Linked DNA regions of Homo sapiens: region 2 is linked to region 1. A link means that fine-mapping ties the variant in region 1 to the expression of a gene that starts in the linked region. Tissue or cell type: whole blood. Region 1 holds a variant in brackets; the other region holds the start of a gene. All regions are shown on one strand. Distances are between the middles of the regions.

Region 1 (9,873 bases):
AAGAGGCGATATGTCTGGATGGAACGCAAAACAAACAGTCCAAGCAATCACCTGGAGTGGGTGTTAGGGCCTGGAGGTCAGGGCTGGGGGTGCCTCCTCACCACATTCCCTTTTGCACCTTTTACATTTAGCGCCTGGACACAGGTGACTGAGGGACAAGAACTAAGACAAGGGACTTTACAATAAAACCAGAAAAATAAAGGAGGGTTGTAAAGGGCATTGTTCAGAAAGGATGCCAAAGGAACTCCCTCACTAAAGGGGCTTCTGCTGCTCATCATGCTGTGCAGGGGAAGAGGTCCAAGGTCGGCCTTGGGCTGTCAACCTTGTTCCCCACTTAAGAGATCACAGGACTACAGTGAAATCAGTAATCTTGACCAGAAAGCTGTCCCAAATAAAATGACAATTTGCTTTTTTCCTCAAAATAAGTAAGTGGATGTTCCCCTTAAATGTACAACCATCCCACAGTGAAAGAGCCGAGGCCTTGTGGAATGACGACACTGTCTGCAGATGAGCTCTCTGGCCCATGACAGCTCCAGCTGCATCTCCCAAGGCTCTGCTGCGCACCCACCTTTCCTCCCTGTGCGCCAGCAGGCTTCGGCCTAGGCCACTTTTCCCCCTTAGTCTACTTGCTCTGACCCCTGCCCCTCCCCTCCTGAAGACTGCATCTGGCGTCAGCAGTCTGTCTCTCCCACAATTGTCAGGTTCATTGCCATATTTCTGGCACCCAGCATGCACTAAATGCCTGCTGAGGGAATGAATGAACAACCAAGGTGATTATGACTGGCCTCTGCTCTCCGTTCTGGGGAAGTTTTGATTCTACCAAAATCAGAGGCCCAGAAGTGAGGTTTAAAAGAGATTTAGGGACTCCCCTTCTCTCACCCTGGGAAGCCAGAGGCCAAAAGGGAAAACTCGCAGCAGAGGGGCATTGTTCTGTGAGGGTCTGAGTTTCCCATCTCTTCCAAAGTAGGAAATTTTGTCCTAAAATGTTTCCTCAGATTTTCTCATGTCTATGCCACAGAGTAGTCAGCAATTATGTATGACATAATGAGGACACACCAGGGACCAGGCAGTCCTGCCAGCATCCTAGGCAGGGATGCTAATAGGTGCTGCCATTTTATTGGCCTAGACTGGGACTGTGGGGTCAGAGAGACCAGAGCTCCAGTGGCTGGACTTGGTTGTTCTAGAACCCGTGCCCCAAGCCTGATCCTGTCCTGCCTCTGTGAGCACTCTGATGGAACAGCAGCCCAGCTTTGCTTCCTTGTAGCACTCATCACTACACTTGGTACAGCTTCCATCTACTTATTCAGCTCTTGTCTTACAGCTCCTAGAAAGTAAGTAAGCAGCAGGAGAACACGGGTTTTGCTTTGTGCATTCTCACGGTAAATAGACAGTGAGCAAATACTTTGCGAGGCTGAGGCAGGTGGATCACCCGAGGTCAGCAGTTCAAGACCAGCCTGGCCAACATGGTGAAGCCTGGTCTCTACTAAAAATACAAAAATTAGCTGGGCGTGGTGGCGCATGCCTGTAATCCCAGCTACTCAGGAGGCTGAGGCAGGAGAATCACTTGAACCCGGGGGCGGAGGTTGCAGTGAGCTGAGATCGCGCCACTGCACTCCAGCCTGGGTGACAGAGTGAGACTCTGCCTGCAACAAAACAAACAAAAAAAGAAACAAGCAGATGTGGCCTGGGAGTAGGCCTAGCAGTGGTCTGAATAGCATTAAAATTCCTAGGATTTACCACCTCAGTAACTTTACCAAATGCTTCTAGAATCAGGAAAAGAGGGAAACAACCATTTCTTAAGCTCCTCCTTTGTAGTAGGCACACCATAGCTATCAACACTATTCAATCTCGCCAGCAACCCCATAAGGCAGGTGTTGTAATTTTTTAAAACTGTGAGTAAATGGAGGTTCAGAACAAGTCACACTAGTGTCAGGTGACCTTGGCAAAAGAATCCCAGGACTGGCTGGCCATCAAGCCCAAGTTAGGCTGGCCTCTCAGGTCCTGTTTCAAAAGGTGAGAAGATAAAAAGGCAAGACTAGGAACATCTTACCTTTCACTTCTGCGAGAAATTATTGCCCCTGGATTCCAGCTAATTTGTTCACAAAAGTACCCTACTTCATTTACAGATAACAGGTCAGAGAACCTGGGTGCCCTCAAAACCCAGCCAGGGCCTAGGGGGCGGCGAGTGGAAGCTGCCTGGGTGTGTACCGCACCGATCTGGGCCCCGGTGGCTGCACAGCTTCCCTGAGCCTCAGTTTCCCTACCTGTGAGACTGGTACAGCAGATCTCACCCTAAAGAGCTGTGGGAGGGTTCGAAGAAGAAAAGTATTAACCACAGCGCCTGCTCCCTGCAGGCACATGGCGGGCCCATCTCCACCTCCCTGAACCCCCACAGCAAGCCCCGCGGGAGAGTATCACCCCCGCCAGGGAAGAGGCAACAAGAATGCAGAGCCCGGCCCGGGCGCTCTCCCGAGCTCGCGGGTCCTCCGCCGGCCAACGTTCAGGAAACAAGCCAGAAAAATGCGTGCGCTTCCCGCCTTTCTGAGCCGCCGGGCGAGGGTCCCGCAGCCCGCCGCTCACCCACAGCCGCACCGCGGATCCAGCTCCGGTCCTTGTTCCCGGGGCGGCTACCGACAACCCCTATTTCCGGGTCCAGCCGCTTCTGGCGTCCCCGCGTCCGGTGTGCCAGCGTCTGCCCTCCGGCTCCGGCGGGTCGGCGTTCTTAGGTTCCGTGGCTCGCGGATTCCGGGAGCACCCCAGGGAGTGGCACTTGCACGCCGCGGACCGCAGGGATCCCCAAGCCCTGCACCCAGATTCTTCCCCGCCACGGAGAGACAATCATGACAATTATCATTACAATGATTATGAAAACTGGCATGAAAACATTTATGCTGTTAATAATTAAAATAATAAAAATGTACCGATGTGTGTATAGCAGGCTTCTTTTCGATGCTGTAAAAAAATCTGTGGAATGAATGAATGATCTGTGTAAAATATATTTGGAAGATGAATTCTAAAATTAAGTTATTTATTTATTTATTTATTTATTTATTTTGAGACAGAGTTTTACTCTTGTCGCCCAGGCTGGAGTGCAGTGGTGTGATCTCGGCTCACTGAAACCTCCGCCTCCCAGGTTCAAGCAATTCGCCTGCCTCAGCCTCCTAAATAGCTGGGATTACAGGCGTGCGCCACCACGCCCAGCTAATTTATATGTGTATGTATATATATGTGTGTGTATACATATATATATATATTTTTTTTTTTTTTTTTGAGGCGGAGTCTCACTCTGTTGCCCAGGCTGAAGTGCAGTGGCGCAATCTCGGCTCACTGCAACCTCCGCCTCCCGGGTTCAAGCGATGATCTCGCCTCAGCCTCCCAAGTAGCTGGGACTATAGGCGCTTGCCACCACGCGGGCTAATTTTTTGTATTTTTTTAGTAGAGACGGGGCTTCACCGTGTTAGCCAGGATGGTCTCGATCTCCTGACCTCGTGATCCGCCCGCCTTGGCCTCCCAAAGATTTCTATATTTTTAGTAGAGACGGGGGTTTCACCGTGTTAACCAGGCTAGTCTTGAACTCCTGACCTTAGGTGGTCCGCCTCCCTCGGCCTCCCAAAATGCTGGGATTACAGGTGTGACTCTTCACGCTCGGCCAACTAATTTATTTGTTAGAGCATTAGGATTATGGAAGGTTTAAAATACGTTTTATGATCTTATTTTAAATAACATACACACATTGCCCTTGTTCCTTGTAGATTTTCCCAACCTGCTGTTTTTTTTTTTTTTTTTTTAAAGACAGGGTTTCACTCTGTCACCCAGGCTGGAGCGCAGTAGCGAGATCACAGCTCACTGCAGCCTCGATCTCCTGGCGTCAGGCGATGCTCTCACCTCAGCCTCCCCAGTAGCTGGGACCACAGGTGCCAGCCACCAAGCCCAGCCAATTAATTTTTTTTTTTTTGGTAGAGATGGGGTCTAGGGGGAGGGTCTCACTATGTTGCCCAGATTGGTCTCAAACTCCTGGCCTCAAGTGATCCTCCTGCCTCGGCCTCCCAAAGTGCTGGGATTACAGGGGTGAGCCACTGTCCCGGGCCCCAACCTGCCTTTATTGGAATGATCTGTGTAAAGTATATCTGGAAGATGAATTCTAAAATTAAGTTATTTATTTATCTAATTTATTTTGATAAATAATAAGTAGTCTGGATAGAGGCTCTGGAAAAAGAAAAGTTCTATAGGCAAATTAAGGTTTGGAAATGTCACAAATTATGAGTCACGGTGAGACTTCACTTTCAAAGCAGAACTCCTGATTCCAAACCCACACCTTGGTAGGTTCTTCGTCTCCAAAATGGCAACTCCATCTTCCTGGTTGCTCAGGGACAGAGCCTGGGAGCATCCTGGACCACCCACAAATCCTGCCATTACTGTCTTTACAATACAGATGCTCCTCAACTTCAGATGGAACTACATCCACATAAACCCATCTTAAGTTGAAAATATTGTGACTCGAAAGTACGTTTTTGACTTATGGTATTTTCAACTTACTATGGGCTTACCCAGATGTAGCCCCATCATGAGTCAAGAAGCGTGCAGAATGCATACTGGTTTTGTAGTTGAAAAATCCTGTAGGTGGAAATTGTCCTAAATCGAAGACTGTATATCGGAGATCCCCTCAAGTCTCCCTGCCTCCCTGCCACCACCCTGATCCGAGCTCCTCCTCTCCCTCCAGGTCTCCACCTTGCCGCCCTGCAGTGTGTTCTCCACATACCAGCCAGGGCTAAGATTGGCTCTGTTGGGTGCTACCAGTTGGCTGAAAGAGAAACCCAGAGGCCCTCAGCTCATTCCATCAATCCAGTTCCAGAGTTCATTGTATGGAGCCCTAGGAAGGACCTGAGGCCTGGGCCAGCAGGAGGCGCTGAGTGGTCAGCTCTGAAGGCCAGGGCGTCGGGAAGTGTTCTTGGTCAGAGCAGAGAAACTGCAGTTGCCTTGTGCTTTCTTCCCGGAGAGCCCTGCAGCTGACCCTCTGCCAGAGCTTTGGGTCAGGCTTTCTGACTGACCCTTAGGTTGACAAATGACCCAGATTCAGAGGAACCCTTCAACTTGGAGGTGTCTCCCTATTGGGACTCCCCCCAACCCCAGCTCCACTCTGACCAGGGAGATGGTGGCCTAGGATCGACTCAGCGAGAGGGGCCGTTCTTCTTTCCCCATGGCTGGGGAGAAACTGACTCCCCTAAAGAGTAGCAGCAGACTTGCCTGCAGAGGCCTCCTCTAAGGAGTGTGCAGAGGCCATGAGAGAAACTCAGGTGCCCAGACACCGCCATGGGACTTCAGGAAGCAGAGCCCTGGGGTGTTTCCACCATGGTCTTGACTTTTCTCCTCTTCCTTACCCTCCTCACTTACTGGGCAGGTGCCTGGTTATGGTGGATGGGATAACTGAGGGCTCCTGGACCTCTCTTCTCTCTGGTTCGGCATAGGCTGGTCCATGATTTTGATAATACTATTAATAGTTAACATCATGCAGTGCTTACTTACTCTGTTCTAGGCACTGTTCTGTTACTGACACAATCCTCATTACAACACTAGGAATTAGATATTATTATTATCCTTATTTTACACATAAAGAAGCAGGACACATAGGCCAGGCGCGGTGGCTCACGCCTGTGATCCCAGCACTTTGGGAGGCTGAGGCGGGCGGATCACCTGAGGTCGGGAGTTAGAGACCAGCCTGACCAACATGGAGAAACCCCGTCTCTACTAAAACTACAAAAAATTAGGTGGGCATGGTGGCGCACATCTGTAGTTCCAGCTACTCGGGAGGCTGAGGCAGGAGAAT[C/T]GCTTGAACCCAGGAGGCGGAGGTTGCAGTGAGCCAAGATCATGCCATTGCATTCCAGCCTGGGCAACAAAAGCAAAACTCCATCTCAAAAAAAAAAAAAAAAAAAAAAAAGAACCAGCAGGACACAATGATGGAAGTGGCAGAGCAACCTAGTTCCAGAAGCCACTTTTTTTTTTTTTGACGGGGTCTCACTCTGTTGCCCAAAGTTCTGGGATTTATGGGCATGAGCTACCGTGCACAGCCTTAAAGATTACTTTTTTTTTTTTGAGAGGAGTCTTGCTCTGTCGCCAGGCTGGAGTGCAGTGACACGATCTTGGCTCACTGCAACCTCCACCCCCTGGGTTCAAGCGATCCTCCTGCCTCAGCCTCCCGAGTAGCTGGGACTACAGGCACACACCACCAAGCCCAGCTAATTTTTTAAATTTTTAAATATTTTTTTATTTTTAGTAGAGATGGGTTTCACCATGTTGGCCAGGATGGTCTTGATTTCTTGACCTTGTGATCCACCTGCCTTGGCCTCCCAAAGTGCTGGGATTACAGGCGTGAGCCACCGCGCCTGGCCAAGATTACTTTTTGAAGTTTGAATAAAAGGGCAATGAAACCTGCGCTGAAGAACAGGAAATTGACTGGCTGTGTGCTGAGGCCATCCTTCTCCCCTGTCTGGGAGGGGGACTTCTGTCACTCTGCTGTCCCCAGAAGTGGGTGGAGCTTAAAACGTCACAGAAGCCCAAGTCATTTGCAGGGTACATGGAGAAACAGCTCTTGGCAGCCTGTCCTATGACCTGAACTCAACATGTCTTTTTTTTTTCTTTGAGACGGAGTCTCGCTCTGTCACCCAGGCTGGAATGCAATGGCGCGACCTCGGCTCACTGCAACCTCCCCTCCCGGGTTCAAGCAATTCTCCTACCTCAGCCTCCTGAGTAGCTGGGACTACAGGTGTGCGCCACCACGCCCAGTTAATTTTTTAAATTTTTAGTAGACATGGGGTTTCACCATGTTGGCCAGGTTGGTCTTAAACTCCTGACCTCGTGATCCGCCCACCTTGGCTTCCCAAAGTGCTGGGATTACAGGCGTGAGCCACCATGCCAGACATCACCATATCTTTATACTCCTTTCTTCACAAAAGAAACAACTGAAGAACAACCAGAAGGTGCCAGCATATTCTGTGAACACCAGCAAAAAACCCACGTAAATAAATGGTGGCAAAAGTGAACTCTTTACACAGGAGAAGCTACCTCCCTGCCTCGCCTAAAATGTCAAAGGATATCATAGTGACAAACATGAAGCCGATATCCATAATAAATTTTATTTTGCCCAGTGACATAAAAGGCAAGTCAGATTACTGTTGGAATGATGAATTGTGTTGATTTCAATTCTTTATAATATTTTCTTATTTTAAGAAGAAATTCTTGTAGTGGTAATTTTGGGATATGACTAAATGAATGTGCCTTTCATGTGGAAGAATAAACAAACAAGAATATTGGGCCAGGCATAATGGCTCATGCCTGGAATCCCAGCACTTTCAGAGGCCAAGGTGAGGGGATCACTTGAGGTCAGGAGTTTGAGACCAGCCTAACATAGTGAGACCCTGTCTAAAAAAAAAAAAAAAAAAAAAAGATTAGCTGGGCATGGTGGCATATGCTACTCAGGAGGCTGAAGCGAGAGGGTGGCCTGTTCCCAGGAGGTTGAGGCTACAGTGAGCTATGATTGCACCACTGCACTCCAGCCTGGATGACAGAGTGAGACCTTGCCTTAAAAAAAAAGTCAAGGAGGATGAGGAGAGAATGGGGAGATAAAAATGTTACCAGCTAGTACAAAGCCACAGGAGCCCAAGACAGGCCCATGAGATAGATGGAAATGAGAGAAGGAACATCTCTGAGAGCTCGCCGCAATAGCCATGTTGGAAAACATCTGTCCACTCATATCTTCCTTTATTCTCACACTCATCCAGTATTTTTTGGGTACCTACTAATTTCCAGGCATTGTGGATACGATGGTGAATGAAACGGAAAAAAAGTCTGCTCTCTTGGGCCTTACTTTCTAGTGATCTGTGATAATTATCTCAGAAAATGTATATCAAACACACAGCACAGTGTATGACAGTCAACAGTCAAGGGCTGGCCACCACTACTTTGATAATCATGTTGGTTTCATGTTTGCAGTGACCAAGAGTCAGGGGTTAACTGAAAGACCCAAACACGTATCCATTACTCAGATAACTTTCTCTGTGCTCCAAGCTGACTTTGCCAAATAGTACAAGCAACACCCCTAATGCTGCAGGGTGCACAGTGTCTCTGTAGTGATGGCGTGAGTGGTTTCTGGGGGTGCAGGCGCCACCTGCTTCCTCGGTTGTTTCTGGGGAGCTGGCACATGCTGCCTTTGTGTGTGGAAGTGGGTGTGGTGCAGGCCGAGGCAGGAGGATGCTTTGGAAGCAGGGAATATCTGGGAAAGCAGTTGATCTGGCCCTGGCCCAGAGATCCCTACCCACCACAGTCCTGCTTCTACAGGGCAACAGCAGGCAACCCATTCTTTTCCTCTAATCCTACTGAAATGTTTGGCTTTCTCCCTCCCTCCCTTCTTTTTCCACTCTCCCTCTCCTCTTTCCTGCATTTCCTCTCTTGACTGAGGCCTGCGTGGGGCTTGCTGGTGCATCGTGCACCTACTGCTTCTTCCTAGGGATCCCCTGGAGATGACTGTCCACTCACCACCAAGATGGGGAAGGACTTATTGAAAAAGACCCACATGACCACCACTCTCCCGAAGATTTTCCATGGATCATTTCCCTGAATGCTCCCACCAAGCCTCCCAGCCAGGTTCCTCTGACCACTCTACTTTGCTATGGGAACTCAGAAGTGTCCCTTCTTTTCCAAGAGGGTTTACTAGATGCCAGGCACTGTTCTCAGCATGTAACCCTTCTAAATAAGTAACTTATTCAACACACACGTAATGGTGTGAGGTAAGGACTATGATTAACTTTGTGATTCAAAATTCTTAAATTCATAGATGAAGAAACTGAGGCACAAAATAGTGGATGCAAATCACAGTCAGCTCTCCTAACCCCAACCCAGAGGTTGAGTTTTGACCCTCGGCCTGGACTGCAGGAAACCTTCAAGCAAGCTCTCAAGTGGGTGCAGCAGGAGGAAGGTCTTATGATCTTGGGGAAATTTGGTCCAGATACTTCCAGGAGCAAGCATCCTCCCATATCTGACTAAAGAGCAATACTGACTCAGGCAAGAAGAAAGTGAGTGGTCAGGGTAAGGAGGAAAGCGAGGCTGAGGTCATGGCAGCACCTGTGCCCTGACACTGCTGGAAAGACATGTCACCAGAAGGTACCTACAGGAAGCAATGGGATTTCATTCATGCAATCTGATCTTACGCTCTGATAGTGTCATGTGGAGCAGCTGCAGTTACATGCCTGCGTGGCTGCATCGGAGAGAGGCGCATTGTGTGGATCAGAGGCAATTAGCCAGTCAGGGTTTGGGGAGGCATCTGATTTTTTCAGCACAGCAAGGAACGGCACAGTACATCGAGCCCCCAGTGCATTTCTCGGTATCTCGATCTTCCTCTACTTGCGCTTTTCTGTTCCTCTGCCTGGAGGTTTTGCCTCCATTCTAGTCTCTGCTCTAACACAGACCTTGTGTGTACTTTATCGCAAACAGTTCCCTTTCCACCCCTCAGCAGCGGGCCCCACTCCCTTTGTTTTGCCCTTTCTCAATCTGAAGACGTGTCATTTACCTGCCAGCTTGCTTATCTGCATGGAGCCCATGCTCCACTAGGGCACGAACTTGGAGTTATTTCTGCTGCATCCTCTGCCCTTGCAAAAGTACCTGTCACCTGGGAGGCACTTAGCAAGTACTTGTTACCTAAATGGACAATGTGAAAAATCACCATGCTCCACTCGCAGGCCAGGCTGCTGGAGATGACTGTATGGCCTCTGGACTGGCCCTCTGAGCGTGACCGATACACAGAGGAAGGTGGGTGCACAAGGACTGTGCTATTCTGTAGGAATCCTATGAGGAATCTGCTGGGCACTATCACAACCTGGAGTC
Region 2 (9,873 bases), 32 kb before region 1:
TAGCCACAGACTCTGCCTACAAACTTTGCTAAAAGGGCGGCTGTGGCAGGGGCCTGAGGTGCAGGATGAAGAGAGTGGGAAGTAAGAGATGCAGGGAGCTCACAGCCCACAAGAGGGCTGTCCTTATCAGGAATTGCTAACTTGGAACAAGCCTTCTGGAAGCCTAAAGATAAAAAACACAAAAGAGAATGGGGTGGGCAGAGGGAAAGGTCCCAGCACCAAGTTAAATGTCTGATCAGTGAGGGATTTGGAATGCAAGGGGTGAAGGGTGGTAAATTAACAAAACACAAAACCCTTCTCTTCTTTTAGAGGCAGAATTGAAAGGTAATTTATTTAAAGTGGACACATACAAATAACGTAGGAATAGGGGTGCTTGCTACTGAAGGTTCTGGGGATAGACTAAATTTATTGCTATGGTTCACATTTACTCACAAGTAGGAGTAAATTTAATGCAACCCAGGTTACAGAAGGCAAGCAGGTAAAAGGATAAAGAACATAAAACAACTGGCAAGGCGCTGTGGCTCAGGTCTATATCTCAGCGCTTGGGGAGGGTGAGGCAGGAGGAGTGCTTGAGGCCAGGAGTTCAAGACCAGCCTGGGCAGTGAGATCGCCACCCCCCCCCCACCCCCCATCTCTACCAAAAAAGAAAAAAAAAGAACATAAAGCAAAAAAGGAAAAATCACTTTGAGAGCAGGAGGGACACTGACATTCAAACGACAAAGGGAAGACTGTGAGCTGGAGAAATGAGCAGAGGCTGGGAGCCCTAGTAGGTCAATGAGGAGGCGGCACGTCCTGCCAGCCATGCCCCAGCAGAGCTGTAAGGCATTCGAAGATGGCGTGAATTTCCCAGCAAGCTTGGCTGCCCTCAAGCAGTGCAAGCGGCCAAGGGCCCCTCTTCTGCCTGGGACTGCCCTGGCCCCTGGAGCTTCTGGGAGAATGTGAACGATGCAGAGCTGCCCCCAGCAACTGCCAGTGCCTGGGGCCTCCTCCCACTCCCTTGCAATTCCAAGTGATCTGGAGGCTCTACTGTCTCACCACAAAATGTGCTCATGTGAATTTATGATTAGGATCCAAGTGAGAGGACAGCATGCTCCCCGCTAGAGCACACAGAGGGCCCCCCTGGAGAAACCCCTGCCCACAGTGTAAAGCCCCACTGTCAAGGGCAGAATTCAAGACCCTTCACTTCCACCCCATTTGCTGGTGACGTCTGCTGGACCTTTTGGGATGCAGGTGCCTCCTTCTTGCCTCCTGACCTTGGGGTACTCTTTCCTGTGCCGTGAGCCCCTCCCCACAATCGGCCTGTTCCCTCAGGGAGGGTGGCTCCTCCTGTCTGCACTACAGACCCTGATTCACTGTGGCCACCTGCCTGCTCTCTCTGTGCCTTGTGCCCACTATCTGCACATGCCTCAATGGTGTCTGTGCCATGTGTACTAAGTAAGGTCTGGGGGGTGTGATGATGTGTGTGTGTGAAGCTCTGTCTGCATCTGTAGAGGGGACAGGCTGGCTTACTCTCAGGGCCTGTGCCAACTGCCTGCTCTTGTTACAAAGGCAGGGTGCCCAGGGCCATCTTACTTGCTGGGGACCAAGCACCCTTGTTTCTGCATCACCAACCTAAGGCAAGGGGTGAGGAGAGAAACCAGGACACAGCTTTCTCTCCCTGGAGCCCAGATGTCGAAAGGGACAGGAATCATTTCCTTCCTTTTCCCAATAAGCTCCTGAATCTGACGTACACCATGGCACACCCGGCAGGAAGGAGAAATTCCTCACCAAGGGAAACCAGAGGCAGCCCTGGGAGTGCCTGGAGGGGCAGGGGACAGTGCTGTGGTTCTTTGAGGGATCAACTGGAAGAGACAGCATCAGGAATGGCATGGAGGCCAGCGGCAAGCCGCAGGGAGTAGGGAGAGCTGGGAGAGCACCAGAGGCAGCGGAGCCTGGTGCTGGGCTTTCCTGAGCAGGGCACACCAGTGAAAAACTCCGAATAAGAGGGACGTGTGCATGAGCCTGTGCAAATCACCAAGAGCCCGGGGTGGGCATGGGAGGGACATTGGACTCCTGCATCCCAGCACCGCCTGCCTGGACCAGTCTGACCAAATGCGACTGGCAGCTGGTTCCTCCTGGATCAGGGCCCCACTGCACACCAAATGGGTGCTCACCCTCCTAGAACCTATTTAAGGTCCCACATAGGTGAGAAATGGCAAAGCAAACTCATCGGGGGGCAGCTGCAGGGGTGTGGCTGACGGTGCTGCCAGCTGCCATCCGCCCCTGCTCTGAGCACTCTTCCTGGGATGGCTTTTAGCCTCCCAACAACCTCTTGTGGTTATCCCCACTTCACAGGGCAGGCTGTAGCAGAAGAGCTAAGGAACTTGCCCAAAGTCCCAGGGTGGGGTTCATGCTGGGGAACCTGGGCCTTAACTGTGATGACACCTGGGAAGTCATTCTGACTCCTTCTATCCCTGACCTGTCCCTCATTGGCCACCAGCTCTGGGCTTTGGCTCTCTCATGGCTCCTCCTTCCATTTCTGTGTACCCCCCACCCTAGGGCAGCCCCTCCCCTCCTTGTTTTGTGGTGCCCTCCTTCCATTTTGCCTCCCGAGATCTCTCAGATCCTTTGAGGCTTTGCTGAAATCTCCCCATCTTTGGATCCAGCATGCTCTCTTTCATGTCTCTATGGCACTTTTGCTCACATCTGACTTGTAAAAAGTTTTTTTTTTTTTAATTTAAAATATTTATTTTCCTCTAGTGCATTAGTTTTGACTCCTAAGCTTAACGAATGCAGGGTTTAACAACTGCAGTTTTTTAGGGGACATAGAAAAAATACTTGTTGAGTCTTGCTTAACTGCAGAACCAAGGTAATGAAAAAAACCCAGCAATCCTTAGAAAAGGGAACTGCACCACTATAGTGTAACAAAAGCATCATTCATGTTAACTGTTTTTTTTTGTTTTTGTTTTTTTTGAGACAGAGTCTTGCTCTGTCACCCAGGCCGGAGTGCAGTGGCGCAATCTTGGCTCACGGCAACCTCCGCCTCTCAGGTTCAAGTGATTCTCCTGCCTAAGCCTCCCTAGTAGCTGGGATTACAGGCACCCACAACCACGCCTGGCTAATTTTTTTGTATTTTTAGTAGAGATGGGGTTTCACCATGTTGGCCAGGCTGGTCTCGAACTCCTGACCTCAGGTGATCTGCCCGCCTCAGCCTCCCAAAGTGCTGTGATTACAGGTATGAGACACCACGCCTGGCCAACCTTTTTCTACCAAAAGAGATTCTTATTTCTTTATTCATAACTACTAATACTAATAATAGTTAGATGTAAATCCTAGATTTTTTTTCTACATATATAAATTTTTTTTATTGTTGTAAAATATACACACTATGTATCCTTTTAACCATTTCTAAGCGTACAGTTCCATGGCATTAAGCATAGTCACATTGCTGTGCAATGACCATTTCTTTCTACAGGCCTGACTTTCTTGATAGACTGTAAGCTCCCTGTAGTCAGGGAGCCCACGATGGCCCTTTGTGTACAGCAGGTGGTAAGTGTGATGGCAGAGGGAAGAGTGACTGGCGGGTGGCATGGGCTGAGGAAGCTACACCACTCTGAAGGGTGCAGTGGGCAGCAGCGCCAGGTCTTAAAAGACTCGGTTGGCTTCAGGTCAGATGGTATCCTTTTTTTTTTTTTTTTTTTTTTTGAGAGGGAGTTTCGCTCTTGTTGCCCAGGCTGGAGTGCAATGGTGGGATCTCAGCTCACTGCAACCTTCGCCTCCCAGGTTCAAGCAATTCTCCTGCCTCAGCCTCCTGAGTAGCTAGGATTACAGGCACCTGCCACCACGCGCGGCTAATTTTTGTATTTTTAGTAGAGATGGGATTTTGCCATGCTGGTCTGGAACTCTTGACCTCAGGTGATATGCCTGCCTCGGCCTCCCAAAGTGCTGGGATTACAGGTATGAGCCACCGCGCCCGGCCTTCAGGGGGTATCTTAAAGGAATTCCACAAATGAACTTGTGTAGAGGTTCATGGCTTTCAGAAATGCATTCGTTTTGTTTACCTCTCACAACTACGCTGAGAAGTACATACTGTCAGGCTACACTGCAGATGAAGAAATAGGTTATAGGAGGGCAAGCACCCATTTAAGGTCTCACACAGGTGAAAGGGCAAAGCGAACTCAATCAAGGTCTCTGGATGCCCAATGCCTTTGGTATTTCCACCTCGCGTGCAGGAGGAAAAGAGCGAAATTTGACAACAGAAGAGACTGGAGATGGCCTCAGAGTGCTGGCCGGCCCCACTTTCTATCCCCCGTGGTGAGAGCTCAGCTGGGCCCAGAGAACTTGTCCCGGGGAATGCCACCACGACATGTGTGACTCTGTCCCGCAGGGTGGAAGGCTTCGAAGGAGCCCGCCACCATGCAGTGGGCCTCACTGTGTGTCAAGCGCTGTGCCGAAATCCCTGCAGCCGGAGCCAGTTCTTCCTGTTGTACAGACAGGTTCAGGGGCTTGCCTGACCGAACCCAGCGGCAATGTGCCCGGCCTCCGCGCCTGAGGCTCTGGCTCACAGACCTGTGGCTGAAGCAGCTGCAGCCCGAGCACTTGTGCAGCTGACGCTCGCTTCACGGACGCTTGGGAGGCCGCGGAGCCGGGGGCCATCAGGCAGACTGGGCCCCTGAAGGTGCAGGGACTGGGGGGATATGGGGCAACGTGCCGGCCCAGAGGCTCCTGGGGGGTGGGGAGAGGCCAAATCTCGGAAAATGGGGCGCGTCCCCCTCAGCACCCGATTCTGCCTCATAGCCCTCGGTCCCTACCAGGCCCTCGGCTCGGCCACACCCCCGCCTGCCCCCCAGTTCTGCCCCCTTGGCTCCCCAGCCCCCCAACTCCCAGCCTCGGGTTCCTCATGTCCGCAGCGGCCCCTCTTGCTCCTCGGCCCCCCGCACTGCACCCCCGCACCCTTTCGGTGCACCCATGTGAGCCTCGTCTCGGCCTCCTTGCCTCCCCAGCCCTCTGATTCCACCCCTCCGGTTCCTCGGTCCCATTTCACCCCTGTGCGCCTTGGGCGCTCGCCTGACCCTCGTCCCAGCCCCGTCAGCCCTCTAATCCCGTCCCCCCCGGCCTCCTCACCCCTGGTCTCCGCGGGCCTCAGCTGTCTCCTCGCGGCTCCGTGTCCCGCAAGCTGCTGCCGGCCGGCCCCGCCCACTTCCCGTCCCTGGCCGCCGCGGGCGCCGCGGGCGCCGCGCAGGCGCAGTCGGGCCTCCAGGCTGGCGGGGCCGGACCTCTGCTGCCCCCTGGCGGCTACGTGGACGGTGACTGCGGCCCTTTAGTGGTAGGCGAACTGCGGCTCCACCTGGGCTCCGGAGCCGCCCCAGTCACCAGCCTCTTGCTTCTCTTCTGCAGCTTTGGGTGGGCGGCTGGATGGGGAAAGCAATCCCTAGGTCACAGCGCCCAGAAATTAAGCAACTTCTGCCGTCAATAGCTGGTAAGTGACAGAGCAGGGATGCAAACCCAGACTGCCCAGGCAGGCTCATCCGTCCGGGAAGGAGGCACAGTCCCAGGCTCATTATGAGTTGTTTGTTTCCACAAACGTTGAGGCTTTTGTTATCTTTCCGTTCTGGAGGTCAGAAGTCCACTTAGCCTCAGTGGGCGAAGATCCAGGGATCGCCAGAATGCGTTCCTTTCTGAGGATTCTAGGGGAGAAACTGTTCCCCTGCCTTTTCCAGCTCCTAAGGGCTCCCTGCATACCTTGGCTCGTGGCCCCTTCCTACAGCCTCGAAGCCAGCAATGGCCAGTTGAGCCTTTCTCACACTGCCACCTCTGGTTCCCTCCTCTGCTTCCTTCTGCTACTTCTAAAGACCCTCCTGATGCCATTGGGCCCACCCAGATAGTCCAGCATCATCTCTCTAAATCAGTTGATTAGCAACCTTAATTCCCCTTTGCCCCTTATTATTATTATTATTTTTTTTTGACACGGAGTCTCACCCTGTCACCCAGGCTGTACTGCAGTGGCATGACCTCGACTCACTGCAACCTCTGCCTCCCTGGTTCAAGCGATTTTCCTGCCTCAGCCTCCCGAGTAGCTGGGACTGCAGGCACGCACCACCATGCCCGGCTAATTTTTTTTGTATTTTTAGTAGAGATGGGGTTTCACCATGTTGGTCAGGCTGGTCTCAAACTCCTGACCTCAAATGATCTGCCTGCCTCGGCCTCCCAAAGTGCTGGGATTACAGTACAGGCGTGAGCCACTATGCCGGGTCTGCCATGTAATCTAACACAGGCACAGGTATAGGACATGAACATCTCTGAAGGGCCATTTTTCTGCCAACACAGAGGCTCTTGAAAATATTCTTTTTCTCTCTTTTTAGAGACAAGCTCCTTCTCTGGTGCCCACACTGGAGTGCAGTGGCATGATCACAGCTCACTGCAGCCTCAAACTCCTGGGCTCAAGTGACCCTCCCCTCCTGCCTCAGCCTTCCTAGTGTCTGGGAACACAGGCAAGCACCACCACGCCCAGCTGATTAAAAAAAATTTGTAGAGACAGGGTCTCTATGTTGCCCAGGCTGGTCTTGAACTCTTGGGCTCAAGTGATCCTCCTGCCTCAGCCTTCCCAAGTGCTGGGATTATAGGTGTGAACCATTACACCTGGCCAAAATATTTTATTTTAAAGGCAGAAGAAAGAAACCTTTATGTCAAAGAAAATGTTTTAATATATGATATTAATATATTCACCTTTATACCAATGCCGTTGGAAAGTATAATTTTTTAAATGGAGGATGGGGCACCAGATCTTATGTGGCTCTGCCCACCTGACCTTCAGGTCCGCAGGCCTGTGTCCTTGCCAGGAATGAATGTCTCTGGGATGCTTCTCTAACAGGAGGAACCTGGAGTGAGACCAGGAACCTGGAGAACTAGCAGCTGGGTGACTGGAAAGGAAACCATCTGGGGTGGGGTTGGGTCTGCAAGGCAGGAGGTGTCTGGGCAGAGAAAGCAGGGCTGGGGCGGAGGGTCCTGCCTCATCCCATTCTCCTGCTCACTCTTTCCTAGATCCCTGTCAGGGCAGTAACCATGAGCAAGGCTTGAGGCTACTTCTTATAAACAGTGGCCCTGGGCACATTCCTTAGCTCACCTGAGCCTCAGTTTCTTGATGAGAAAAAATCGGGACAATAGCAACCAACCTATCTCAGAGGGCTGCTGTGAGACCCTGAGCCACTGTTTCTCAAACTGCCCCTGAGATCACCTACAACAGAATGGCTGTAGGGTGAAGTTTGAGAACCGCAGTACAGGTGAGGTGGTGCGTGGGGCAGGCCCTCCCACACTGTAAAGTGCAGTGTGGTGCGGTAAAAGCTGATATTCCCGCAGGCATCCTCAGAGTGGGCCCAATTAGACTCTTGAGCACTGATTCCATTCAAGGTCTGCGGCTTAGAGAGGATGGCAAAGTGAGGCACCACCAGGAGCTTGTCCCTATGGGCTCCAGGCCAAGGACGTGCCTGGAGATGACTCCTGCCTTGTGGCGCTGTCACTGCCTCACTGTCCACATTCCATCACGCCTCAGATCCTGGCTTCCACCCTGGTGAAAGGAATCTTTCAATATCACCCACCCAGCCACAGACGCTTCTCTGCTTCTCTGGCAAGGCTGCACCCCTGGCTAGGTGGGCAGGGCCAGGGGCTCCTTGAGACAGTCTGCAGCCACTGACCTCTCCAGCCTCCAGGGCAGAGGTACAGTCCCATGGAGCGTGGCTGATCTGAAGGCAGTTCTGGCCTAAAAGGGGTCTTGTCCCTTCCTTGTCCTCATTGCTCCCAAGGCCAGGTTGGCAGCAGTAGCAGCGGGGTTGGATGCTATTGGATGGGAGAAGGTGAATGGACTCGGAGTGCAGAATCAAGCTGCGGAAGCCAAGGGCCTTGAAGGAGGGTCACACACAAGGGACAACTGCAGAGGAAAATAAAGGAACACTTTGTGATTAGCCCTGCCTGTGGCTGAAAGCGCAGTGCAGAAGCATAGTAAGGAAGGACTGGGTGGTCTGGGTTTAAGACCTAGGAACCGTCTCTGCTCCTCCAAGCCTGAATGAGCCCTATAACCTAAGGGTCCTGGAGGTCTTGAAACCTTCTGCGGAGAAGGCTCCAGGTCCACTGGGCCCTGTGGGTGGAAGAGCAGAGTCACAGCCCCGCACTGGGGACCTAACAGGTGTGGCCTTGCTAGGGCCCCAGAATGGGACCAGAGTGGGTGGGAGGGGGCAGAAGCTCTGAGAGCACCCCCTCCTTCCTGAAGCCTGTGCTTCTGAGACACATCCCAGGACCCTCTATGTGGTTCCCCATGTCTCTGTATTTTCATTCAGCTTCGAGTAGCTCTCCAAACTGTGTTCCAGGGAACCCCCGTGTTAACCTGTGAGGGCCTCCAGGAAGGGGGTCCAGGGGGGGTATGCTTGGTGGGCTCTGGGTTTCCTTACAGGAGCTCTCATATAAGTCCTGGTGCAGCCTGGGAATCTACTACTGAGTTGGGGCGGGGGCGGGTCTGAGTCCGAAACATTCCTGACCTGCCCCTCAAAGAAAGGTCCCACTGAACAGTCTGGAAAGCTGTTTTGCTGAGCTCCCGTCATCACTCAATGAGGCACGGGCGGAGTGTGGAGGGAGTTTCCAACACACAGTGGATCCCGCACAGGTGTCTCTCCTCGGGTGGCTGGGGAGGGGAGCACAAGAAGGCACTGAGGTCAGAGGGCAGCTGCCACCAGCACCTGGCACCACACGGCAGTCTGGCCTACAGGGTATTTTCTAAACCTGGCATGTGAATGGGTTCCATGGGGCACCCAGCTGCCTCTAAGACCATAAGGGCTTGTTGTGAGAATGGGAATTGCAGCAGGTCCTGGGAAGCTGCCAGACGCACACGGGCACCATGTACAGGGCTTCTCAGAGATGGGAGCAGGGAGCAGGGGACGGAGAAGTGTGGGGTCAAGAGCGTGGCCCTGAGCAGGGGGCTGCAGCGAAGACCAAGGGGATTCATAAGCCAGATCCGGGGAGGGGGTCTCCCAGCCCCACCTGCTCCACTAGACTCCTCTCCTGCCGGAGCCACAGCTGTCAAGGCCGCCTTCCTTAAGGCATCAGGGCCACTGCTTGTGCACACAGCTACCATCAGCAGCACGGATTGAGATGGGGTGTGAGTGCAAACTGGGTCTATTCCCCAGGGCTTCAGGGTTGGGGCATCCCTGCCCGTACTGCCAGGGTGTAGGGATAGCAGGGAGCACTCTGGGCACGTGTATGCAGGCTGAAGGGAGACGTATTGGGTTTCGGAGAGGGAGAGAGGGCCCCACAGGTGCCCAGGGACACGGTAACGCTCTGACATCGCTGCACCAGCAAAGGGGCCCCAGCTCTGGATAAGATAAAATGCATTTTAATAGTTTGAAGTGCCATGAGGTGTCTGCATGGCACTGCAGCCTGGGTGAGGGAGGACAGGGTCATCATACAAAGTAGGCGGCCAGGGCTGACATCTTGTCCTTGGGCCGTCTGGGGTTGGGCTTCCCAGGGGGCCTCCTGGCCCGGCCCCGCCCTCGACCCTGCCTTCTCCCTGGTCCACCGCGGTGCATGGGGTGGCAGGAGGCCGCATGCTTCAGCTCCACCAGCTCCTGGAAGACGGGGTCACAAAAGACGCAGCCCATGTGCTGCGTCTCATCGCCCGGGAGTGGGGACTTGGCCTTGTTGAAGTCCACATCAAGCAAGGCGGCCTCACAGACACTGCAGGTGTCGGCGGACACCCGCACGCGGTGGGCGTTCTCGAAGCAGTGCGCTACCACGTTGCACTTGTTGCAGGCCACCTTCCACTTGGGGCCCGAGGTGGGGTCCAGCACCAGCACCCCGCTCTCACATTCCACGCACTGGCCGATGCCCAGCATGCTCAGCGAGTGCTGG

What was found. PIP is the estimated chance that this variant, and not a neighbour inherited with it, causes the effect.
Region 2: PPM1F starts here. The variant in region 1 is fine-mapped to the expression of PPM1F in whole blood (TOPMed, PIP above 0.99).

Annotation. Positions count from the first base shown.
Region 1 is chr22:21,980,150-21,990,022 of GRCh38, forward strand. It overlaps TOP3B (DNA topoisomerase III beta), which reads right to left and starts at 2,638. Exons shown (of 18, transcript NM_001282112.2): 1 at 2,581-2,638. RefSeq lists enhancers at 2,039-3,025, 2,523-2,817. The variant C/T (reference allele first, on the strand shown) is at 5,825.
Region 2 is chr22:21,947,689-21,957,561 of GRCh38, forward strand. It overlaps PPM1F (protein phosphatase, Mg2+/Mn2+ dependent 1F), which reads right to left and starts at 5,160. Exons shown (of 8, transcript NM_014634.4): 1 at 5,104-5,160. It overlaps TOP3B (DNA topoisomerase III beta), which reads right to left. Exons shown (of 18, transcript NM_001282112.2): 18 at 9,337-9,873. The coding sequence ends at 9,426. RefSeq lists enhancers at 4,313-4,382, 4,429-4,949 and a silencer at 4,943-5,352.